3 separate regions of the Homo sapiens genome follow, and regions 2 and 3 are each linked to region 1. A link means that fine-mapping ties the variant in region 1 to the plasma level of a protein whose gene starts in the linked region. Region 1 holds a variant in brackets. A gene starts in each other region. All regions are shown on their reverse strands.

Region 1 (8,170 bases):
CGGGGGCGTCGGGGGGCAGCAGGGGGCGGGACCGCGGCCGGGAGGGGCGGGGCCGCGCGCGCTAGCTGGCGCTTCGGGGCTGCTCTGCTCGCAGGTACTTGCCGCCAGTGGTCGGGGGCTCCCCGGCCGAGCAGGTCAACAACCCCGAGCTCAAGGTGGACGCCTCGGGCCCCGATGTCCCGACACGGCGGCGTCGGCTACAGCTCCGGGCGGCCACGGCCAGAATGAAAACGGCCGCACTGGGACACGACCTGGACGGGCAGGACGCGGGTGAGACCCCTGCATCCCTGAGCCTGAGCCCCGCCCACTGCCCTGAAGCCTCTCCCCTCTCCTGGTAGTTCCCGCCCGTGCCTCTGCTCTTAGCGTTCATTGATTAATTCACTAATTCATTCAACGAGCATTTATTGAGCGTTGCCCTGAAAGACTGGGGGTAACAGATCAATGAGGGGGTCTGTATCCTTTCAGGCCAGTAGGGGAGACACGAAAACATTCTTAAAGAACAGTGGGAAGCCCCTTATAATGGGCAAAGGGCAGTGGGAAAATGGGGGAGGGGGCAATTTGGGGGAGGCTGGGAAGCCAGGGTGGTGGGTGACATTGAGCTGGCTCCGCAGGGTGGAGTTTGCCAAACAGAGAAGCAAGGCACAGACACTCATTGTTTTCTTCTCTCCTTCTATCTGTCTGTCTCTGTCTCTCTTTGTCACTCTTCCCGCACCCCTCTTCCTGGCTGCTTTCTGCTTCTGTGTACTTCTGATTTTTCTGTTTTTTCCTGTTATCCTCTCTCCCCATCTGCCTGTTTTGTTTTTTTTTCTCTCTGTCTCACTGTCTCCCATCATGATCTCTCCCCCCATGTCTGCTGTCGGATCTCTCTCCTTCCTTCTCTCCCTGCCTTCCTGTCACTCATGGTCTTTCTCCCTTCCCCAACCCGGCATCCACCTGTGTCTCCCTCCCTTTCCTCTCTCTTTCTGTTTTTATCTCAATTTCTTTTCCTCCCTCTGTCTCCCTCTGCTTCTCCCTCCCATCCTGCTCTGTCCCTCTTCTTCCTTGCAGATGAGGATGCCAGCGGCTCTGGAGGGGGACAGCAGTATGCAGATGACTGGATGGCTGGGGCTGTGGCTCCCCCAGCCCGGCCTCCTCGGCCTCCATACCCTCCTAGAAGGGATGGTTCTGGGGGCAAAGGAGGAGGTGGCAGTGCCCGCTACAACCAGGGCCGGAGCAGGAGTGGGGGGGCATCTATTGGTTTTCACACCCAAACCATCCTCATTCTCTCCCTCTCAGCCCTGGCCCTGCTTGGACCTCGATAACGGGGGAGGGGTGCCCTAGCATCAGAAGGGTTCATGGCCCTTTCCCCTCCTCCCCCCTCAGCTGGGCCTGGGGAGGAGTCGAAGGGGGCTGCAGAGAGGGTAGAGAAGGGACTTTGCAGGTGAATGGCTGGGGCCCCAAATCCAGGAGATTTTCATCAGAGGTGGGTGGGTGTTCACAATATTTATTTTTTCATTTGGTAATGGGAGGGGGGCCTGGGGGTATTTATTTAGGAGGGAGTGTGGTTTCCTTAGAAGGTATAGTCTCTAGCCCTCTAAGGCTGGGGCTGGTGATCAGCCCCAACAGAGAAAATGAGGAGTTTAGAGTTGCAGCTGGGGAAGGGGTTTGAAGGAAGTTGGAAGTGGGGAGGGGTGGGGGCATCTGGTCTCAGAAATGGACCAGCTGGATGCAGGGCAGGGGACTGAGGGTGCTTGAGTAGGATGTGAGACTTCATGGGCCTGGGTTCTGTTGAGTTTTTTCAGTATCAATTTCTTAAACCAAATTTTAAAAAAAACAAGGTGGGGGGGTGCTCATCTCGTGACCTCTGCCACCCACATCCTTCACAAACTCCATGTTTCAGTGTTTGAGTCCATGTTTATTCTGCAAATAAATGGTAATGTATTGGACCCCATGTGTGGCTTCTGTGCTGTCACCATCAGTGCCTGAGCCCTGGCTCCTAGCAGAGGTCTCAGAGCCTCTGTGACTGGCTCATTTTCTGCCGGCTTTTCACTTCCCTTGGCACCTGTCCCCCAGGAGGCGGGCCTAGACAATAACCTCTGATCTCCAAATTGCCCACCCTCTGGGCCTCTGAGCATCTTCGTTTGTACAACAGGGAGAATTGTGGGGACCAAATAGAATCTGTGTGAAAAAGCACCTTGTCACCTGCAAAATGCTCTTTGAACATGAGGCTTTTTTTTTTTTTTTTTTGAGATAGAGTCTCGCTGTTGTCGCGAGGCTGGAGTGCAATGGCGCGATCTCAGTTCACTGCAACCTCCGCCTCCCCAGTTCAAATGATTCTCCTGCCTCAGCCTCCTGAGTAGCTGGGATTACAGGCGCCTGCCACCACAGTCAGCTAATTTTTGTATTTTTAGTAGAGACGGGGTTTCACCATGTTGGCCAGGCTGATCGCAAACTCCTGACCTCAAGCGATCCACCAGCCTTAGCCTCCCAAAGTGCTGGGATTACAGGCGTGAGCCACCGCACCCGGCCACGAAGCATTATTAAGGTGACCACACCACTGCCCCCTGCCTTCAGGATGGGAGGCCTTGTTCTCTGAGTGTCAGTCTCTGGCTACCTTGCCACGTCCTTGACAATGTCTGCTTTCAAATATCACTTTCTCCTTCCTTCCTTCTTTCTTTCCACCGCCTGAATGAATCTTTTGTTCTGCGGCAAGCCAAGAGAAAATGGTAGGATTGATTCCCAAGTGTGAAAGCGGGGGCGGAAGTGGTGTCTTCCAAGAGGAGTCTGGGTGCCCTGCCGAAGAGGGGAAGATGCAGCGAGGGAGAGACCTAGAACCGCGATCAAAGCTGCAGCAGCTGCTGGGGCTGGCGGCACAAAGGGAGGAGGGAGGAGCCTGGGCGCTGAGAAAGTTCTTGGGGAAAGTTGAGCTGAGCCAAGAGTCGGGCGGTGGCTGGGATGGGCGGGAGGGCCCGGCCCGATTTCCCTTGCTGCTCCCCTTGTGGCCTGGTGAGTGGGAAGTGAAACCAAGGATAGGACCAGTGGAGGGACCCTCTAATTTATGGGAGGAGACATGAGGGGTTCATGGAACCCCAGCGGGGGCAACTGGGCAGTCACCAAAGCTGGAGGGGACAGAGGGCTGGGATCTCCAATCATGGGAAGGGAGAGATGGATGGAAGGAAATGAAGAACTCTGGATAGGGGAGACGCGGCTAGACCCCAGGGGCTGTGATCAGGGAGGGAATTGGGGAGTGATGCCAGAGAGGGCAGGTCTCCGGGAGTAAAAGTGTGGCTTCTCTCTGCTTGGGGTTACCCCTGGCTCATCGGAGCAGGGAGCTGTCGGGGCTTGTTGGAGGGGCCGTGGTCCCTGATCGCGAGTTGTAATCTGAAGGGGCGGGGCTGGACTCCCGGTTGATTAGGAAGCTCGGGCTTCAGAAGGAACTCTGCAGTTAGTGTTTGCGCCTTTCTCCTTATCTTTGTGTCATAGTCTCTCTGTCCCTCTGTCTCTCTCTCTCTGTTTCTCTGTGTGTGTGTGTGTGTGTGTGTGTGTCTCTCTCTCTTTCTGTCTCCCTCTCCAGCCCCACCCTTTCAGTCTCCTCCGGGTGCACTGATAAGGTTGGAAAGTGGAATGGTGGGTAAGTCCAGGGATCTGGGCTTTATAAGTAGCCACACGTCTCCCCCAGCCCCTGTCATACATGGGGGTCTGCCCCGTGCTGAGACAGAGAAAAAAGAGGCGCGGGAATTTATAACCCAATGGCTCTTACCCATTGCAATGCCACTCCTGGAAGTCCAACCTCCCTTCCTCCTGCCTGGGTTCATACACCTGTGTCCTGTCTGATCCTCATTCCCACTGTATGGCTTCCCTTCCTGGTCCTGGGATAGGGCTCTTTATCCCCATCTGTGACAGCCAGAGGGGCTCTGGAGGAAACCAGGTTCCCGACCATGGTCTGACCTGACTGTGTTAATGAGCTGATTGATCTGATCTCTCTCTCTCTTGCTGGCTGTTTCATTCACGAGCTGGGGCTTTTTCTCTCCTTCCCTTATAAATCCCCAAGGCTCAGGGACAACTGTAGGTGGGGAGCGGGAGGAACTGGAGATAAGAAAGTGATAGAGCAGAGACAGTAGTTGTGGGGCCACCTAGGAGAGTCTGGGTATAGACAACATCCCCAGCCACTCCCCTTCCCTGAAGGAGGTCTCAGCTGCAGCAGGAGAGAAGGCTGCCTCTGCCTCTCTCCTTAGACTTCCCTTCTTCCCCCCTCATTTCCCTTCTAGACGCTGACAGAGGCAAAAATCTGCTAACTCAGGGGGCAGACTCAACCAAGACTGTGAGCAGGCCTGGGGAATGACCCCCCGATCTCCAACCAGTGCCTTCCGCAGCTGCACGGCTGTCTCCAGCTGTCTCTGCCCCTCTTCCTGGCCCTGGCTCCATCTCTCTGTCACCTCACCCTTCCCTGTGCCACATGGGCCCTCTCTCTCCTGCCAGGACGCTGCGGCTCTGGGGACCTCGGAGCCTGGGGGTGGCTCTGGGAGTCTTCATGACCATTGGCTTTGCACTCCAGCTCTTGGGAGGGCCCTTCCAGAGGAGGTGAGTTCCCACTTTGCCCCAACTCCTTCTAGACGCCCCGTACTTGCTCTTCCCCATCCCACCTGGGGCTGGTGACTCCTGAGGACTCAGAAGCCTCCATGCCCTCTGTCCCTTCTACCCATTTGCTGCTGAGGAACAGGACACTCCCCCTCCATCTCTTCCCAGGCTACCTGGGCTACAGCTCCGACAGCCCTCGGCCCCATCCCTACGACCAGCCCTTCCGTCCTGCCCACCCCGGCAGCGACTGGTGTTCCTGAAGACACATAAATCCGGGAGCAGCTCTGTGCTGAGCCTGCTTCACCGCTATGGGGACCAGCACGGGCTGCGCTTCGCCCTCCCTGCCCGCTACCAGT[T/C]TGGCTACCCAAAGCTCTTCCAGGCCTCTAGGGTAAAAGGCTACCGCCCACAGGGTGGAGGCACCCAGCTCCCCTTCCACATCCTCTGTCACCACATGAGGTTCAACCTGAAAGAGGTAAGGAGTGTCGCAGTGGTGGGAGGGACCAGAAACAGATGGGCTCAGGCTGACACCACCAAGGGAGGGGGCCCAGACCTGGGGGCTCCCCAGGCATCATCTCACCCTAAAGTTGGACATAGGGGCCACAAAGTTGGGCTCCCTGCCATCCTCTCTACAGGTGTCCCTTCCCCAGTAGTTTCTGGGAGCCCAAGTCCTCCTCCCTTCTCTCTCTGGCGCTTACTCCAGTCTCTCTCTTTCACCAATGTATTTCCCTGGCATCAGTGCCTTGCCAACTCTGAGCCCCCAACTCTCCCTCCAGGTGCCCCTTACTCTTCTGTTTTTAAATTATTTTTTGGAAGACAGGGTCTTACTCTGTCGCCCAGGCTGGAGTGCAGTGGCACAATCATAGCTCACTGCAGCCTTGACTTCCCAGGCTCAAGTGATCCTCCCACCTCAGCCTCCTGAGTAGCTATGGCTAAGGCATGTGCCACTACACGTGGCTACTTTTTAATTTTTTGTAGAGATGGGGTCTTGCTATGTTGCCCAGGCTGATCTCAAACCCCTGGGCTTAAATAAATAAATAAATAGTCCTGGGCTCAAGTGATCTGCTCACCTTGACCTCCCAAAGGGTTGGGATTACAGGAGTGAGCTTGCCCAGCCTGTGTGTGTGTGTGTGTGTGTGTGTGTGTGTGTGTGTGTGAGACAGGGTCTCATTCTGTCATCCAGGCTGGAATGCAGTGGTACAATTATAGCTCACTGTAACCTCAAACTCCTGGGCTCAAGCGATCCTCTCACCTCAGCCTCCCAACTAGCTGGGACTACAGGTGCATGCCACCACACCTGGCTATTTTTTTATTTTATTTTTTGTAGAGATGGAGTCTCACTATGTTGCCCAGGCTGGCCTCAAATGATCCTCCCACCTCAGCCTGGCAAGTACCTAGGACAACACGCCCCTTCCCTTTCTTAGCCTCCCTTTCACTGTCACACCAGGGCCCCACCTCCCCCACTGCCTTCTGACTTGTCTTCTTCAACCCCCTCACATTTTGAGGATCAGCTGTATTTTTAGCCCGGGACTAAGCCCAGCACTTTGGGAGACCAAGGTGGGCAGATCACCTGAGGTCAGAAGTTCGAGACCAGCCTGGCCAACATGGTGAAACCCTGTCTCTACTAAAAATACAAAAATTAGCCAGGCGTGGTGGCACACGCCTGTAATCCCAGCTACTCGGGAGGCTGAGGCAGGAGAATTGCTTGAACCCAGGAGGCAGAGGTTGCAGTGAGCCGAGATTGTGCCACTGCACTCCAGCCTGGGCAACAGAGCGAGACTCCATTTCACAAAAGAAAAAAAAGGCCGGGCGCAGTGGCTCACGCCTGTAATCCCAGCACTTTGGGAGGCCAAGGCGGGTGGATCACAAGGTCAGGAGATCGAGACCATCCTGGCTAACACAGTGAAACCCCGTTTCTACTAAAAATACAAAAAATTAGCCGGGCATGGTGGTGGGTGCCCGTAGTCCCAGCTACTCAGGAGGCTGAGGCAGGAAAATGGCATGAACCTGGGAGGCGGAGCTTGCAGTGAGCTGAGATCGTGCCACTGCACTCCAGCCTGGGTGACACAGTGAGACTCTGTCTCAAAAAAAAAAAAAAAAGGAAAGAAAGATAAATAAATAAAATTGAAAATTAAAGTGGCAGAGCTGGAAGTTGAGCCCAGGTCCATGCACTCCAAAGTCGAGGCTTCTTCCGAGGCTTGTGCATGTGTTTGTATCTGGAATGGTGAGAAGAATATTCACCAAAGAGGTGATGCTTTCTGGAGAGGGGGGTTTATTTTACTTTATTATTTAATTTTGATTTTTATTTTATTTATTTTGAGACAGAGTCTTGCTCTTTCCCCTGGGCTGGAGTGCAGTGGCACGATCTCAGCTCACTGCAACCTCTGCCTCCCGGGTTCAAGCAATTCTCATGCCTCCCAAGTAGCTGGGACTACAGGCACCCGCCACCACGCCTAGCTAATTTTTGTACTTTTAGTAGAGACAGGGTTTCGCCATGTTGACCAGGCTGGTCTCAAACTCCTGACCTCAAGTGATCCGCCCACCTCAGCCTCCCAAAATGCTGGGATTCCAGGTGTCAGCCACCGTGCCCAGCCGAGAGCGGGGGGTTTTAAAGGAAAAGGTGGATGTGGCTTGTGGTAAGGACAGCATGAGGCATTCTTAGAGGGAGCAAAACACCAGCAAGGACATGGTGGGGTGCACGTGTGTGTGTGCATGTAAGAGGGAGAACGTCTGTACTGGGGGTAGAAGTTCCACAGGGGCTGCAAAGTCACCCTTGTTGAAGCTGGAGCTGGAGACACCAGCTGAGGACATGGGCGTGCTCTGATGGGCAGCGAAAGGCCACTGCCAGGAGTGAGGCAATGACAGTGACCTTTGAGGTAGGTTTCTCCAGAGGCTAGGATGATGGCCTTCACTGACGCCACCATTCACTGAATACCTACCATGTTCCAGACACTTGCACATTCTTCCAGGTAAGTGTTACCCAGTTACTCAGATTTCTAGATGGAGGAATGATGGCTCTGAGACCTTCAATAACCCGCCCAAAGTCACAGAATTAGTAAATGGCAGAGTGGGATTTTATTCCAGGTCCAGATGCCAAAGACTGTTTTCTTCGCTTTCCCCTCTGCCTTCAAAGAGACCTGCAGGGCCAGGCATGGTGGCTCATGCCTGTGATCCGAGTGTTTTGGATGCTGAGGTGAGAGGATTACTTGAGCCCAGGAGTTCAACGCCAATCTGGGCAACATAGCAAGACCCCATCACTACAAAAAAATTAAAAATTAACAGGGAATGTTGGTGTGTGCCTGTAGTCCCAGCTATTCAGGAGGCTGAGATTGGGGAATCCCTTGAGCCCAGGAGTTTTCAAGGCTGCAGTGAGCTATGATATGCTGCCTAAGTGACAGAGCAAGGAGACACTGTCTCTTAAAAAATAGTAAGAAGAAAATAAACACTGAAAAGCTAAAATGCTCATTTCCTGTCCTCCCCCTCAAAAAAAAAAAAAAAAAAGAGAGTTCACAGGCTGCTATTCAGGTGTGCCATACTTGCAGAGCCGATTGAGGAACACCATGACAGACAGAAGTCAGATTCAATGATGGAAGTCATTTTTGGAGGCAGAAACCCT
Region 2 (8,170 bases), not on the chromosome of region 1:
TGGAGGTTGCAGTGAGCCGAGATTGTGCCATTGCACTCCAGCTTGGGTGACAGAGCGAGACACCGTCTCAAACAAAACAAAGCAAAATACAAAAATTAGCCGGACGTGGTGGCGGGCGTCTGTAATCCTAGCTACTCGGGAGGCTGAGACAGGAGAATCCTTTGAACCTGGGAGGCGGAGGTTGCAGTGAGTTGAGATCGGGTCACTGTACTCCAGCCTGGGCGACAGAGAGAGACTCCGACTCAAAAAAAAACAAAAACAAAAACAAAAAACCCTGGAATTGCTCTTCATTTCCTCAAACCTCCTTCCACCCTCAGGCTTTTTAGCCCCTCAGCCATTTTTGTCCCATTCCCTTTGGGCAAAGGAGATTCTAGCAAGGTGAAGAAGGTGGGCTCAAGGGGAGGAGGGCAGAGGCAAAAACTGGAAGGGGAAATGGAGGAGGACAGGACGTCCCAGATAGGGACAGCCCTTTGCACTGCAGGGATTCCACTTCTCCTCGTCTTCCCATTCCCTCTGAGATGCTGACTCTGACCACAGCTCTTGGACTTTAAGCCACCCCACAGCATCCCCTTTACTTCTAGTGTCCTTCCAATTTGAATCCCACTCCTCCCAAATATACCAGATTCCTAAAGGGGCTGCTTGTTTGTCTTTGTGTAATGATTTTTGTTGTTGTTGTTATTGTTGGAGTCTCGCTCTACCGCCCAGGCTGGAGAGCAGTAGTGGCGCGATCTCGGCTCACTGCAACCTCCGCTTCCCGGGTTCAAGCGATTGTCCTGCCCCAGCCTCTCGAGTAGCTGGGACTATAAGCGCGCACCACCACGCCCTGCTAATTTTTTTGTATTTTTAGTAGAGATGGGGTTTCACCATGTTGGCCAGGATGGTCTCGATCTCCTGACCTCGTGATCCGCCCGCCTCGGCCTCCCAAAGTGCTGGGATTACAGGCGCGAGCCACCGCGCCCGGCCAGGATTTTAAAAAAAATACTGTATTAGGATTTTTATAAGGCTGTAGTAAATGCTATTGAAAAATGCTTACCTCTTATTTCAGCCTTCTCCTCTGTCTGTTCCTCAAACTGGCTTTTGGTTTGAGAGAAGGGGAGGAGCGACCCTGGGGTTGGAAAAGCCCAGGAGACAAGATGGAGATCCAGTCTGTTCATCTGTACATCCCTGGACCTGGGGCGGTCCTGGGGACAGTCCTTTTCTCAAGCCAGTCAGTGGACATTTGGGGGAGAGTCTAGGCACGGATATAGAGGACCCAATATTCCTTTTTTTTTGAGACAGAGTCTCGCTCTGTTGCCCAGGCTGGAGTGCAGTGGCGCGATCTCGGCTCACTGCAAGCTCCGCCTCCAGGGTTCACGCCATTCTCCTGCCTCAGCCTCCCGAGTAGCTGGGACTACAGGCGCCCGCCACCACACCCGGCTAATTTTTGTATTTTTAGTAGAGACGGGGTTTCACTGTGTTAGCCAGGAGGTCTCGATGTCCTGACCTTGTGATCCACCCGCCTCGGCCTCCCAAAGTGCTGGGATTACAGGCGTGAGCCACCGCTCTCGGCCCAAGATTCCTTAATCTAGTTGGTTTTCCGAAAGCGTGGCTATGAAGGAAGAACTCAGGAGTTCTAGCCATTCCCATTGTATTTTGTGTTTTTTTCAGTAGGTATCCCGACGCAACCCTCAGATTAAAACTTTAAGGGAAAATGAAGACCACACCCCTATTCCATAGAAATTAACTCTAATGACAACGTAGTGGCGTGGCGGGGGTATAGCTCAGTGGTAGAGCATTTGACTGCAGATCAAGAGGTCCCCGGTTCAAATCCGGGTGCCCCCTCTGTGCTCCGGAGTTACCTCGTTTTGTTGGTCTCCGGAGGTCCTCTAAAGAGTTCCCGCACAGATGGAATGGGAGGGAGTCTCGAGCCCTGCCACCCTTTTTGCTTTCGCAGGCGAGTGAGGATGGAGTCCTGGCCCCTGCCAGTGGCTCAGCCTGTGTGTGTACCCAGGGTAGAATGCAATGCGAGTGAGGGCGAGGAGCTCCGGGCTGACCCTTGGAACACGGTACGGGTGGCTCAACCTCGCAATGGCAGGGCGGAGGCGAGCGCACCCCCAGGTCAGCCTGGCTCTTTCTTGGCGGGAAGGAGGCTGAGTTTCTAAGGGCTGGGCTGGGGAAGACAGGTCGGGAGAAGCCGCGTGAGCATGTGGGAGGGAGAAAGAAGCTCCGAGACGTGGCAAGGGGTCTTCTGCAGGGCAGGAGAGTGGGACGCCCCCGAAGTGAAATATTTCGAGAGACTTCTCCTTCCACACCCCAGGAATATATTTTCTTATACTGCCAGTGGGGATCTTCAGCTCAGAGCTTCAGGGAACAACCCCTGCTTCCAAGTGAGTAATTCTTCTGGGAGTTGTATTTTTTCCATCTCTTGTAAACGTCTTACCCCACTTCCACTTCCCTTCGGGAACGCCACACAGCGCCTGCGCAGCAATACCACTAAACGACTACGTGCGGTCGGTTTGCCGGCAGAGGGGGTATAGCTCAGTGGTAGAGCATTTGACTGCAGATCAAGAGGTCCCCGGTTCAAATCCGGGTGCCCCCTCTTTGGCCTTTTCGAGATACTGTTTTTGTCCTGGGTGTCGATTTTTCCTAAGCTGTTTGCTTTTACTCCTACTGGCAGACGAGGAGCAGTGAGGGACTGAAAGGAACTGGGGATTCAACAGCAGTGGCTCTCAAAATGTGGTCCTGGGACCAGCAGCATTACCTGGGTACGCTCGGGCCTCATCCCAGACCTAATGAATTAGAAACTTGAGGGTGGAGTCCAGAAATCTGTGTTTTCATATACGCTCCCCATCGCTTGAGTCCAGGAGTTGGAAGCTGCAGTGAGCTATGATCGCAGCACTGCACTCCAGCCTAGGCAACGTGCGAGAACCTGTCTCAAAAAACAAACAAAATACACACACACACACACACACACACACACACACACACACACACACACCCTGCAGGTGATTACGATCTCAAGTTCTAGAGGCTTACGTTAAAATTTACACATTTGCTTCTACTATTTACAAGTTTATGTTTCAGCCTGAGCTCTTCTTGTAAGACAGACCACGAGGTACCCCAGATGGAGGAATGTGCAAAGACGCCGGGGCTGGAGCTGGAATCCGTCCCGAGACTTCTCACCTTGACCTCGAGGAAGGCAGGAGGTCGGAGACAGGGGGTGGGCAGGCTGGGGAAAGAGGAAACCCGCAGGACAAGAGGGTTGTGGCTCGTCACGTGGCCACTTGAGGGCAGCAAGTAGCTGCAGCTGGAGGTAGCTGCCTATCTGATTCTGTTTGAGAGTCCGCCAAGTTGGGATTTAAATTAGACATCAAGAAGAATTTACAGACCGGCCTTGCCTTGTTCCACGGTAAGGGGACATTGGGTTTAGGGCTGGAGGAGGTAGTCTCTGGGACTCTGGGCCCGGCGGAAGGAGGAACCGGCGTTCTAAGAGATTAGAGAGCCTTTAGTTGTTTCCTTTCTTAGGTGTTTTTTTTTCTTTTCTTTTCTTTTTTTTTTTTTTAACCTCAGTGCCACGGAATCCGTCTCTTCCAGCCCACAGTGTACCTTCTCCTGTCCCCGCCCATATCCCTCCTCCTGGAAAATTTCTCCAATGGCGCTCAGCGTTCGCACCCTTCCTCTCCGCGGTTTTCTAGTCCCTAGGCCCCAGCCCACTAGAAGCCAGGATGCCCCCTCACCCCGTCTCCCACTCTCCAGCGCCCCAGCTCCTTGCCGTCACAAGAACGAAGTAGGTCAGGGGAGGGAAGAGGCATCTTCGTGTCCTGACCTGATTCCTTGCCGTCTATTAAATATCCTACATTGCGGGTATTTTTATTCTGTCCTGGAAGAAAAAATAAAAAGATTATCTATCCCCAGAGCCTGTCAGAAGGTGGTGACAGGTGGGGTGAGCCATTTCCTCGTCTGGGGCTGGCTCTGAAGATTGATTGGGTCTGGCCCTGAGTAGGCCTGGAGGCCCCAGAGAGGCAGGAGGCCTGGGTTACCTACTCGTGGGGAGGGGTCCAGACTGTTGCAGAGTAAGGGGTAGCCAGGCCCCCTCCACCCTCACGTCTGCTAGGCTTGGGGGGCAAATCGGTGCTGGAAATGGGGGGTGGAGGGATAAGGTGGAGTCATGGAAGGGGGGTGGGATTCAGGCCCCTCTTGGGGAGAAAAGCTGGGGGTCTTTGCTGCAGGGGGAGATTTCTGGGGGTGGGGGCTGGAGGACAAAGCATCAGAGACGCACAGAATTCCGAAGAACAGCTCAGGAAGTCGCAGAGCTTGGAGGAGCTGGGGGCGGGGAACAGTCAGGGGCCCGTGACCCAGGGATGGGGCGCCTGTCCCTTCCAGGGGTCCAGTCCTCGGGCCTTCTCTCTGCAGCTTTCCCGGCGGAACGGAGGAGGGAAAGGGAGCCAGGAGCTCAGTGAGGAGCGCGGGGCGGCTGATGCTTCTAGGGGTTCTCTCAGCCCGAGGGGCTCCCGCCCTGTCCCCTACTCTGCACCCCTTGCCTTGGGAGCGGCTGCAGAGCTCTAGGGGAGCGCTCCGTTAGGGCTGAGGGCAGGCGCCGGGAGAGCCCCCAACGACGCCGCGCCCCCCGCCCCGCCCCCTGCCCCAGCTCCCCCCCACCCCCACCGACCCAGCGGCCCCCCCAGCTCCCCGCCTGCTCCCGGAGGCCGCAGCCTCCAGCTCCGCTCGCGCTCTCGCCGCTCCTGCCGGCTCGCCCGGCCCCGCGCTCCGCCGTCTCCTCGCCGCCCGCCCCTCCGCCAGCCCCGGGGACCGCGCGGCCGCAGCCTGAGCCAGGGCCCCCTCCCTCGTCAGGACCGGGGCAGCAAGCAGGCCGGGGGCAGGTCCGGGCACCCACCATGCGAGGCGAGCTCTGGCTCCTGGTGCTGGTGCTCAGGGAGGCTGCCCGGGCGCTGAGCCCCCAGCCCGGAGCAGGTAGGACTGGCGGGAGCCGGCCCGGGTGGGCCGGGGGCGGGGAGGGACGGGCAGTCAGGTGTGGGCATGGGCAGGTGTGGACGGCCTGGCGATGTCCGCGAGGGGGGCATTGTCCGCAGGAGGCCAGGAGAGCTGTGGGCTGTGGGCAGGTGGATAGGGACCCCACTTTCCCAAACACATAGGGTGTGTGAGTGACGGTGGAGACACCGATGCCCGGACCTCTCCTTCTCTCCTGGAAGGATACTGGAGGGACCTTAGGAGAGGGGGCTCTATGTGGCCATGGGCTCTGAAAGGGGACAGCGGGAGAGTCATCAGGACCCCTGATCACCCCAGGCAAGGCTGAATTCTGATGAGATGGGAGCCTGGGGAGGCCCCTGCCCCAGCCATGCCTTCTTTTCCTCTTCTCTGCCACACCCCCGACCCCAAAGCTGATCCAGGCTAGGGATAGGTGGGAGCAGCCAGGGGGATGGTGGGGACACAGCGTCTCTGCCTGGGAAGGCAGCAGCCATTCGGTCACCTTCCCTTGCCTATTTGGTGTCAGTAGAGAGGCAGTGGGCCCAGGAAGAAGCAACTTGCTGCTTCTGCACCCCCAGCCTCAAGAGTCCCCCTCCTCACACCTGCTCCCATTTGCCCTGGCAGCCTTTGGCTTTCAGCTACTCTGGCTCTAGATGGGGCACTGGGGTAGGGGGTGGAGGGAGGCGTCCCATTCTGCACACTCCTCTTCCCCCCTACCAGTTCTCCAAACTCATCTCTCCCACCTGGAAGTCCTTTCTGAGATCTACCTGGAATCCCTCATGGTATAATTTTCATAGTCTCTGTTCTCCCCTAAGCACCTAGACTTTCTCTGGGGTTGGGGAGATGGGTAATTTGCAGCCTGGCCCCTCAGCAGAGATGATTAAGAAGATAGATACCTGTGCATCATTGGCATGGGTGCCCCTCAGGTGGGGTGAGGGAGGCGCTGTTGAGGTGAGTGCTGTGGTTGACCTGCTGTGTCTCAGGAGTGTGCTGGCACCAGGCACAGTGTCAGTGGCAATGTTCTTGACTTTAATGGTCCCAGCATGTAGCTGAGACAGACCTGGGTCCCTATTGAGAAGAAGAGTATGTTGGGGGTGGGAGGGGAAGGAGGCTGACAGTGGGAAGTATGGGCAGAGGGCAGTGGAGCTGACGAACCGAGAAGCTGCTGGTGAGAACCACCAATTTTCAGGGAGACCACACAGAGGGTGGCCAGAGACGTGGCTTCTAGTCCCGCCATCTCACTTGCTGTGTGACTTTAGACAAGTTACTTTCTCTCTCTGGACCTATTTTTGCATTTATAAAGTGAGGCTGTTGGCAAAATCTTTGACTCTTGTGCGTGGAATAATGAAGGATCTTTTATAATTGCCTTTCCTTTTCATATTTGTTAGGGTCTTTATGGGTAACTGATACTTTAAAAAAATCAAGGTAAACAGGAGAGAGTTGGATATGTTATGAATAATTTCTGGGCTCCTTTGAATCCTCAACCTGGTGTGATCTTCTGAACTCTGGGTGTAACAGAGTTTATGAGGGGAGGATCTGAACCTTTGGCTGGATTGTGTGAACCACGGAGAGGGCTGGGGAAGGGGGAATTGGGAGGTAACAAGGATGGGCTGGGAGATAGTGGCCAGACCCGGGCCTGGCTGAGGGCGGCCCCTTCAGAGTAGGGTTGGGGTAGTAGACGGTTGAGGAGACCAGGAAGAGTGGGGCAGGCAGAGACTTGAATCACTTCTCTAAGTAGAGGCTATCCTGTCTTCTTGGCTTTGACAGAGATTGAGCCAGGAGAAATGCACTTTTTCTGCAGCAGGAGGGATAGAGGTTAGACTTAAGGAATCTGTAAGAAGCCAGAGGCGGCAGCTGTTGACTCCCAGTCCGGTGCCCTTTTCACAGGCCAGGTGGGATTTCACAGGCAGGAGGACCTATGAGGAGGAAGCGGGTGTCTGGGGAGGCCAGATGTAGGAGAAGGACGTTCTGGGGGAGAGTTGCTAAGGAGGGGCAGCCTGACCTGATTGATGGCGGAGTTGTTGTGACCAGTGGAAGGGCAGCTGGGAGCAGGACCTGAAGAGATGCTAGCATCCTTCCCCAAGGCTCTGGGTTTGTGGGGCTGGTGGGGGGCCTTGGGAAGTAGCTGAGATCTCCCCTCGCTCCTGATGGACAGGCTTGTTTGGTAGAGCCTTGAAACCTCATCTATCATTAGAACAGCAGCAGCAGAGAGATGAGTGGCCCAAAGACAGAGTCAGACAGCAGGGGAGACCAGGATGACAGACAGGAAAATGGCCTTGGGGTGCAGAGCAGGGGCCCAGGGAACTGACAGTCTGGTCAGATGGAACCAGAGGTGCATATGACAGATAAAGAAGAGGCAGCGAGAGTTGGCATCCTGGCCTGGGAGTCCTGCAGGAGGCCAGGCTCAATACCAACTACTGGTGACCCTGACAGCTTCCTCCTTTCTCTGAGGAAGGTTTCCCCGTCTATAAAATGGGGGCTTGCACCAGTCACGGTGGCTCATGCTTGTGATCCTAACACTTTGGGAGGCTGAGGTGGGAGGATAGCTTTAGACCAGGAGTTTGAGACCAGCCTGGGCAAAATAGTGAGACCCCATGTCTATAAATGATTTAGGCCAGGCAGGGTGGCTCATGCCTGTAATCCCAGCACTCTGGGAGGCCGAGGCCGGCGGATCACCTGAGGTCAGGAGTTTGAGACCAGCCTGGCTAACATGGTGAAACCCCGTCTCTACTAAATATACAAAAATTAGTATATTTAGTATTGTTATTAATATTATTAATATTAGTATATTAGTAAAAATTAGCCAGGCGTGGTGGTGCATGCCTGTAATCTCAGTTACTCAGGAAGCTGAGGCAGGAGAATAGCTTGAACCCGAGAGGCAGAGGTTATAGTGAGCTGAGATCGCACCACTGCACTCCAGCCTGGGCAACAGAGTAAGACTCTGTCAAAAAAAAAAATTAAAATTAAAATAAAAAATTAGCTGGGCATGGCGGTGTGCGCCTGTAGTCCCAGGTACTCGGAAGGCTGAGGCAGGAGGATCGTTTGAGCCCAGGAACTGGAGGCTGCAGTGAGCTATGATCATGCCACATAGTGAGGGCAGCATAACGAGGTCCCATCTTTTTTTAAAAAAAGGAGGGAAGGAGGTTGGACCAGATTGTCTCTAGGGCTCCAACAACCTGAGACTAAAATGCGAACTTATGGAGGT
Region 3 (8,170 bases), not on the chromosome of region 1:
GCCGCAATAAACATACGTGTGCATGTGTCTTTATAGCAGCATGATTTATAATCCTTTGGGTATATATCCAGTAATGGGATGGCTGGGCCAAATGGTATTTCTAGTTCTAGATCCCTGAGGAATCACCACACTGACTTCCACAATGGTTGAACTAGTTTACAGTCCCACCAACAGTGTAAAAGTGTTCTTACTTCTCCACATCCTCTCCAGCACCTGTTGTTTCTTGACTTTTTAATGATCGCCATTCTAACTGGTGTGAGATGGTATCTCATTGTGGTTTTGATTTGCATTTCTCTGATGGCCAGTGATGATGAGCATTTTTTCATGTGTTTTTTTTGGCTGCATAATTGTCTTCTTTTGAGAACTGTCTGTTCATATCCTTCGCCCACTTTTTGATAGGGTTGTTTGCTTTTTCTTGTAAATTTGTTTGAGTTCATTGTAGATTCTGGATATTAGCCCTTTGTCAGATGAGTAGGTTGCAAAAACTTTCTCCCATTCTGTAGGTTGCCTGTTCACTTTGATGGTGGTTTCTTTTGCTGTACAGAAGCTCTTTAGTTTAATTAGATCCCATTTGTCAATTTTGGCTCTTGTTGCCATTGCTTTTGGTGTTTTAGACATCAAGTCCTTGCCCATGCCTATGTCCTGAATGGTATTGCCTAGGTTTTCTTCTAGAGTTTTTATGGTTTTAGGTCTAACATGTAAGTCTTTTCTCTTTCTTTCTTTCGTTCGTTCTCTCTTTCTGCCGAGACCAGCTCGGTCGGGGAGACCCTAACCCAGCGGTGCTAGAGGAATTAAAGACACACACACAGAAATATAGAGGTGTGAAGTGAGAAACCAGGGGTCTCACAGCCTTCAGAGCTGAGAGCCCCGAACAGAGATTTACCCACGTATTTATTAACAGCAAGCCAGTCATTAGCATTGTTTCTATAGATATTAAATTAACTAAAAGTATCCCTTATGGGAAACGAAGGGATGGGCTGAATTAAAGGAATAGGTTGGGCTAGTTAACTGCAGCAGGAGCATGTCCTTAAGGCACAGATCACTCATGCTATTGTTTGTGGCTTAAGAATGCCTTTAAGCGGTTTTCCGCCCTGGGCGGGGCCAGGTGTTCCTTGCTCTCATTCTGGTAAACCCACAGCCTTCCAGTGTGGGCGTTATGGCCATCATGAACATGTCACAGTGCTGCAGAGATTTTGTTTATGGCCAGTTTTGGGGCCAGTTTATGGCCAAATTTTGGGGGGCTTGTTCCCAACATCTTTCCTTCTTTTCTTTTTCTCTCCCGCTCGCCTCTCCCCTCCCCTCCCCTCCTCTCCTCTCCTCTTTTCTTTTCCACAGTCTTGCTCTGTCGCCCAGGCTGGAGTGTGCAGTGGCGCAATCTTGGCTCACTGCAACCTCCACCTCCCAGGTTCAAATGATTCTCCTGCCTCAGCCTCCCGAGTAGCTGGGATTACAGGTGCACCACCACGTCCAACTAATTTCACAAGTAAATATATTTAATGTCAGATAGTGATAAGTGCAGAGCGAGAAAATGCAGGAAGATCCAGTGGTCAAGGAGCCCCAGGGGGCGGTGTGGGGTGGGGTGAGATGGTCAAGGACTCTGGTACTTGAGCTGAGCCCTGGAGAAGGTAAAGAAGCAGAGCATTTTTATATTGGAGGAAGAGCATTCCAGGCAGCAGGAACAGCCAAGACCAAGGCTGTGAGGCAGAGTGTCTGGAGCATTTAAGGAACAGCAATGAGGCCAGAGTTTGGAGGCAGATGACATAGACCAGGAGGCCATGGCAAGGACTGTGGCCCTTCCTCTAAGCGAGATGGGGGGCTCAGAGGGTTCTGAATGGAGAAGTGATCAGATCTGACTTGGATTTTGAAAGGATCCCTCTGGCAGGATGGAGAGGGCAAGAGAGACACCACGGGAGAGGCTGTTGGGGAAATCTAGATTGGCGTTGCTAGCCACCTGGGCCGGGGGTGGGTGGCAAAGAAGGTGTCCAGGAGTGGTCAGATTCTGGATCTCTTTTGAAAGTGAAGCCAACAGGATTTGCTGAGAGACTGGATGTGGGCTGTGGGAGAAAGAGAGGAGTCAAGCATGACCTCAAGGTTTGGGGCCTGAGCCAACAGAAGGATGAACTCCTCCATCTTGACTTTTGTCTCCTGAGAAGGGGAGTCATTCTGTGTGCTTCACATGTATAGACCTTGTAAGAAGGAACTTCCAGGCATATGGCAAGAACTTCCTAAGCCCTGGTTCTCGAGGGGCTGGCTGGGTCTGCAGGGCCAGCCTAGGCACTGTAAGGTGGTTTGCAAAAACGCACCCTGGTCTCCACCCACCACATATGCTCAGAAGACAGGAACATTTGCTTCAGGCTCCACAGCTGACAAAGCACATTTGCAAACACTGAGCGCTGTGACGCAATATCTCAGCCCTGCTGAGCTAAAAATCCTGGACTCATTGCCCTCATGTTGCAACTGAGAAAAAAGGAGACCCAGAGAGGGCCAGTGACTCCCCTGCAGTCACAAAGTCGATCCATCTGTGGCAGAGGGGGAAGCTGCATCAGGGCAGTTTACTGAAGGGCGGAACCTCTCCCCCACCTCCCCACACTGTTTCTAACTTCTGCTAAGAGTGCAGCGGGTGTGCATGGGTTAATCCGCCAGCCAGCTCCCCAGAGGCCATCCTGGATGATGGGCTCAGTGCACATGCCTCCAGAGGCCTCCAGGAAGGGCGGGAAGAGGACCCTGGCCAGGCCGAAACAGCAGGCCCCGGGGGCAGGGAGGGCTCCACACACGTGATGCCTGTGTCACATATACACATATATGTCACTGTGTGCCCCATGCCCATACATGGCCTTGCATGGGTCCCCTCACAGCCTTCCACATCCTGCGTGCAGCCCAGCCCCCACCCAGCCCCCTAAACCACGCACCCTGCCTTCCTGACGCAGGAGCCCAGAGAGGCATTTCCTGTTTAGGGGCTGCCTCCTCCCCCTCTAAGCCCAGGTTCCCAGGGCCCCAGGCTGAGCTGGGGTGAGGGGAGGGCAGCCCCTGGCCCCCTCACTCCCCCAACACCCCCACACGCTGGCCCAGCTGGAACCAGAAAGCTTGAGTATAGGGGGAGAGGCTGACGCAGGGGCTCAGTAAATAAATGAGAGGCTGAGGATGCCTGTGCCTGGGTGACCAAGCTGTTTCCATTCAGGCCGAATCGGAGGTCTTCATATGTCAGGCCATGTAGAATGCCACACCATTTTTGTATGTGCACCTAGGGTCTCAGCATGTCAGAATGTGTGTACGTGTGGCAAGGGAGTCATCTGCAAGCCAGCATAGGTCCACGGTGAGGTGAAGGGACAAACAGCTTGGCAGAGAGTGCACTCTTGCATGGGGTTGGGGGTGGGGGAGGCGCATGCGCGCGTCTGTGGGGCAAGAAAGGAGTGGGCATGAGGGTGTTCCCGTGCATGGCGAGCAGCTGGGCTGAGACTGCTCCCGGGTGTGATGGGGCTGCTGTGTCCAGATTTGGGTCTCTGAGTCTCTGGGAAGCGACCTCACCCCACAGCCCCGAGCCCCAACTTGAGGGTCACAGAGCTCGGCAGGCAGGCTTTTCCCACCCCCTGACTCTCAGCCCCATGGGGCCTGGGGCAGCCGTCAACTGCGCCTTCTCCCCTCCTCCGCCCCCAACCTTAGAGCCCCCCACCCCACTGCTTCCTGCTCTAGCGGCCCCCGGGGAAGAGGGAGCAGGGAGCTGGCAGCCGCCCCAGCCCACTCCTTACAAGGCCTGAGCCCGGCCCCAGGCCCGCCCCCGGCCCGCCCGCAGGAGGCCCCAGGCCCTCCCCCTGTCAAGAGCTGCCGCCAGCCCGGGGCCGGACCAGTCCGGGGGCATCGCGATGCTGCTGCGCCTGTTGCTGGCCTGGGCGGCCGCAGGGCCCACACTGGGCCAGGACCCCTGGGCTGCTGAGCCCCGTGCCGCCTGCGGCCCCAGCAGCTGCTACGCTCTCTTCCCACGGCGCCGCACCTTCCTGGAGGCCTGGCGGGCCTGCCGCGAGCTGGGGGGCGACCTGGCCACTCCTCGGACCCCCGAGGAGGCCCAGCGTGTGGACAGCCTGGTGGGTGCGGGCCCAGCCAGCCGGCTGCTGTGGATCGGGCTGCAGCGGCAGGCCCGGCAATGCCAGCTGCAGCGCCCACTGCGCGGCTTCACGTGGACCACAGGGGACCAGGACACGGCTTTCACCAACTGGGCCCAGCCAGCCTCTGGAGGCCCCTGCCCGGCCCAGCGCTGTGTGGCCCTGGAGGCAAGTGGCGAGCACCGCTGGCTGGAGGGCTCGTGCACGCTGGCTGTCGACGGCTACCTGTGCCAGTTTGGCTTCGAGGGCGCCTGCCCGGCGCTGCAAGATGAGGCGGGCCAGGCCGGCCCAGCCGTGTATACCACGCCCTTCCACCTGGTCTCCACAGAGTTTGAGTGGCTGCCCTTCGGCTCTGTGGCCGCTGTGCAGTGCCAGGCTGGCAGGGGAGCCTCTCTGCTCTGCGTGAAGCAGCCTGAGGGAGGTGTGGGCTGGTCACGGGCTGGGCCCCTGTGCCTGGGGACTGGCTGCAGCCCTGACAACGGGGGCTGCGAACACGAATGTGTGGAGGAGGTGGATGGTCACGTGTCCTGCCGCTGCACTGAGGGCTTCCGGCTGGCAGCAGACGGGCGCAGTTGCGAGGACCCCTGTGCCCAGGCTCCGTGCGAGCAGCAGTGTGAGCCCGGTGGGCCACAAGGCTACAGCTGCCACTGTCGCCTGGGTTTCCGGCCAGCGGAGGATGATCCGCACCGCTGTGTGGACACAGATGAGTGCCAGATTGCCGGTGTGTGCCAGCAGATGTGTGTCAACTACGTTGGTGGCTTCGAGTGTTATTGTAGCGAGGGACATGAGCTGGAGGCTGATGGCATCAGCTGCAGCCCTGCAGGGGCCATGGGTGCCCAGGCTTCCCAGGACCTCGGAGATGAGTTGCTGGATGACGGGGAGGATGAGGAAGATGAAGACGAGGCCTGGAAGGCCTTCAACGGTGGCTGGACGGAGATGCCTGGGATCCTGTGGATGGAGCCTACGCAGCCGCCTGACTTTGCCCTGGCCTATAGACCGAGCTTCCCAGAGGACAGAGAGCCACAGATACCCTACCCGGAGCCCACCTGGCCACCCCCGCTCAGTGCCCCCAGGGTCCCCTACCACTCCTCAGTGCTCTCCGTCACCCGGCCTGTGGTGGTCTCTGCCACGCATCCCACACTGCCTTCTGCCCACCAGCCTCCTGTGATCCCTGCCACACACCCAGCTTTGTCCCGTGACCACCAGATCCCCGTGATCGCAGCCAACTATCCAGATCTGCCTTCTGCCTACCAACCCGGTATTCTCTCTGTCTCTCATTCAGCACAGCCTCCTGCCCACCAGCCCCCTATGATCTCAACCAAATATCCGGAGCTCTTCCCTGCCCACCAGTCCCCCATGTTTCCAGACACCCGGGTCGCTGGCACCCAGACCACCACTCATTTGCCTGGAATCCCACCTAACCATGCCCCTCTGGTCACCACCCTCGGTGCCCAGCTACCCCCTCAAGCCCCAGATGCCCTTGTCCTCAGAACCCAGGCCACCCAGCTTCCCATTATCCCAACTGCCCAGCCCTCTCTGACCACCACCTCCAGGTCCCCTGTGTCTCCTGCCCATCAAATCTCTGTGCCTGCTGCCACCCAGCCCGCAGCCCTCCCCACCCTCCTGCCCTCTCAGAGCCCCACTAACCAGACCTCACCCATCAGCCCTACACATCCCCATTCCAAAGCCCCCCAAATCCCAAGGGAAGATGGCCCCAGTCCCAAGTTGGCCCTGTGGCTGCCCTCACCAGCTCCCACAGCAGCCCCAACAGCCCTGGGGGAGGCTGGTCTTGCCGAGCACAGCCAGAGGGATGACCGGTGGCTGCTGGTGGCACTCCTGGTGCCAACGTGTGTCTTTTTGGTGGTCCTGCTTGCACTGGGCATCGTGTACTGCACCCGCTGTGGCCCCCATGCACCCAACAAGCGCATCACTGACTGCTATCGCTGGGTCATCCATGCTGGGAGCAAGAGCCCAACAGAACCCATGCCCCCCAGGGGCAGCCTCACAGGGGTGCAGACCTGCAGAACCAGCGTGTGATGGGGTGCAGACCCCCCTCATGGAGTATGGGGCGCTGGACACATGGCCGGGGCTGCACCAGGGACCCATGGGGGCTGCCCAGCTGGACAGATGGCTTCCTGCTCCCCAGGCCCAGCCAGGGTCCTCTCTCAACCACTAGACTTGGCTCTCAGGAACTCTGCTTCCTGGCCCAGCGCTCGTGACCAAGGATACACCAAAGCCCTTAAGACCTCAGGGGGCGGGTGCTGGGGTCTTCTCCAATAAATGGGGTGTCAACCTTACCCAAGGCTTCTGACCCCCACTGGTGCTTAAGGGAGGTTCTGGGAGGACTCAGCAAAAAGGAGGGGATCTTCCTTCAGTTTGTCTGAGTCCTCAAAGAGATAAGGTAAGATCCCTTTAAGGGAGGGTATGCCTCAGAGATTCTCAGGGAAGCAGGAGCCCAGAGAGGGCAGAGCCTTGCCCAAGGTCACACAGTTGAGCCCAGCAGTGGGAGGTTTGGCATGGGGAGAATTTCATATTTATTCCTTATTTTACCAAAGCTCCAAGAAGGTGGGGCTGAATCTGGGGGACGGTTGTGGAATTAGGGCATCTGCTGAACCGGACTGGGGTTTAGGGGTCAAAGTAGGCTCTGGGGCTGGTGATTCAGAGGAGTGAAGGAGGGGTCTAGTGGGTGAGTTGCTCCTTTCTTCAGACACTTCCCTTCCCATCCCTGTAAGCTTCGCGGAAGTTGGGGGCTGGGGCTCAGGGTAACTCAAGGGGACTGCCAACCCCTGGTTTGTGGGTGCTCTTGGAGGCATTCCTCCGCTTGCTCCGGGGAGGAGGCTGGGATGGGAAAGGCCGGGAACCTGGGAGAGATCCCATGCTAACTGCTTGGACAGCCGCAGGAGCAAGGCCTCCTTTTGCCAGGGCCGCACGTTGCTCTTGTCCATGTTGGCTGGGGGTGGTGGGGGACAGACAGAGCTCAGCAGACCTGAGCTTGAGCGAGGGCTCCGGCTGCTCAGGACTGAAGTGTCCCAGGAACTGGAGGGCCTGGTCAAAGATCACAGCCTGGTGGGAGTGACCTCCCTCATTTCGTGCTCACTGCCTTGGGGGGCGGGGGTGAGACCTGGGGAGGGGAGGCGCCAGTTCCCACCGCCTCTGTAATTTTTCAGTTACAGCCTCTTGGGGGCCTCTAATTAGGACGGGGCAGAGCCGCCACGACCACCCGGGCAGGCGAGGAGGAGTGGCCCAGCGCCCCCTTCGGGCCTGGACCTGAGCTGGAAGGCTGAGCTGGGCCCCAGGGAACCAGGAAAGGAGGGGCCGGAGCTGGGGATGAACCAGGGGGTCGCGGAGGGGGCGGAGGGAACGCTACGCACCGCCCCCGGTCCCCGCTCTCACGTTCCCCTAACTCAAACCAGACGTCCCCGCCAGATCCTGCACAGCTTTAACCTCGGAGACGCCGTCGGGCAGGTTTGCTGGATGCCAATGAGGGTTGCGAGGCGGCCCAGACGGCTGAGTCTGGGAAGGAGGTGAGGAAGCCTGGGGAGCGACAAGGCCTGCAGAGACGGGATGGTCTGGAGTCCCCTCCGTGACCTCGGGTAGGGATCTAGAGCGCCTCGAGGGCAGGAAACAGTTAAATACACTGCAGTCGGAGGCGGGGGATGGGAGTGGGGAAGGGGGCCCAGAGCCGGCTCTTTGTCATCTGGTAATGAGCACCAGATGCGGAGCTGCGTGCGGGCCTAAACAGACGGCCTCCCAGGGCAGAGCCCCGGCCTGCGCCCAGCCCGGGCTCAGCCCACTTACTCGCAGGCCCCGCCTCATTCGGGCGCGGCGGCGAACTGCATACTCCAGCGGTATCAGCCCGGACCTGGGAGCTACGAGCCACGCCTACTCGCTGCAGAACAGAAGAGAGCCCCCGGGAGCTCTCCAGAGGCCCCGCCCACAAAGCCACAAGCCCCGCCCCTGCCAACTCAAAGATTCCAGCAGCGATTGTGCCCGCCCCCTGCCCTCTTGGCCCCGCCCAGTCCCCCGCCCACAACCTACAAGCCCCACCTCCTCCGCTCGGCGCGCGCAGATTG

Alleles and levels. Positions count from the first base shown, and alleles are read on the strand shown. Strength reflects both the effect of a copy and how common the allele is.
As copies of T replace C in region 1, the plasma level of the protein whose gene starts at base 4,675 in region 2 goes down (weak association).
As copies of T replace C in region 1, the plasma level of the protein whose gene starts at base 3,844 in region 3 goes down (weak association).

The links. PIP is the posterior inclusion probability: the model's chance that the variant is causal. The UK Biobank Pharma Proteomics Project read protein levels with antibody pairs (Olink). The fine-mapping took linkage between variants from a reference panel, not from the people measured, so its PIPs are less certain.
Region 2: PLXDC1 starts here. The variant in region 1 is fine-mapped to the plasma level of the PLXDC1 protein (UK Biobank, PIP above 0.99).
Region 3: CD248 starts here. The variant in region 1 is fine-mapped to the plasma level of the CD248 protein (UK Biobank, PIP above 0.99).

The regions. Positions count from the first base shown.
Region 1 is chr7:100,163,361-100,171,530 of GRCh38, reverse strand. GAL3ST4 (galactose-3-O-sulfotransferase 4) reads left to right here and starts at 2,914. Exons shown (of 4, transcript NM_024637.5): 1 at 2,914-2,985; 2 at 4,248-4,560; 3 at 4,726-5,029. The coding sequence starts at 4,436. GPC2 (glypican 2) reads left to right here. Exons shown (of 10, transcript NM_152742.3): 9 at 95-270; 10 at 1,048-1,925. The coding sequence ends at 1,301. RefSeq lists a silencer at 1-68. The variant T/C (reference allele first, on the strand shown) is at 4,914.
Region 2 is chr17:39,148,142-39,156,311 of GRCh38, reverse strand. It overlaps PLXDC1 (plexin domain containing 1), which reads left to right and starts at 4,675. Exons shown (of 14, transcript NM_020405.5): 1 at 4,675-4,950. The coding sequence starts at 4,875. TRC-GCA2-3 (tRNA-Cys (anticodon GCA) 2-3) reads left to right here and starts at 2,507; the gene lies at 2,507-2,578. It overlaps TRC-GCA2-4 (tRNA-Cys (anticodon GCA) 2-4), which reads left to right and starts at 1,750; the gene lies at 1,750-1,821. RefSeq lists a silencer at 1,692-1,761 and enhancers at 1,638-2,142, 2,143-2,649, 3,022-3,171.
Region 3 is chr11:66,312,718-66,320,887 of GRCh38, reverse strand. CD248 (CD248 molecule) reads left to right here and starts at 3,844. Exons shown (of 1, transcript NM_020404.3): 1 at 3,844-6,394. The coding sequence starts at 3,861. The coding sequence ends at 6,134. RefSeq lists enhancers at 841-1,340, 1,341-1,842, 4,399-5,095 and a silencer at 3,646-3,915.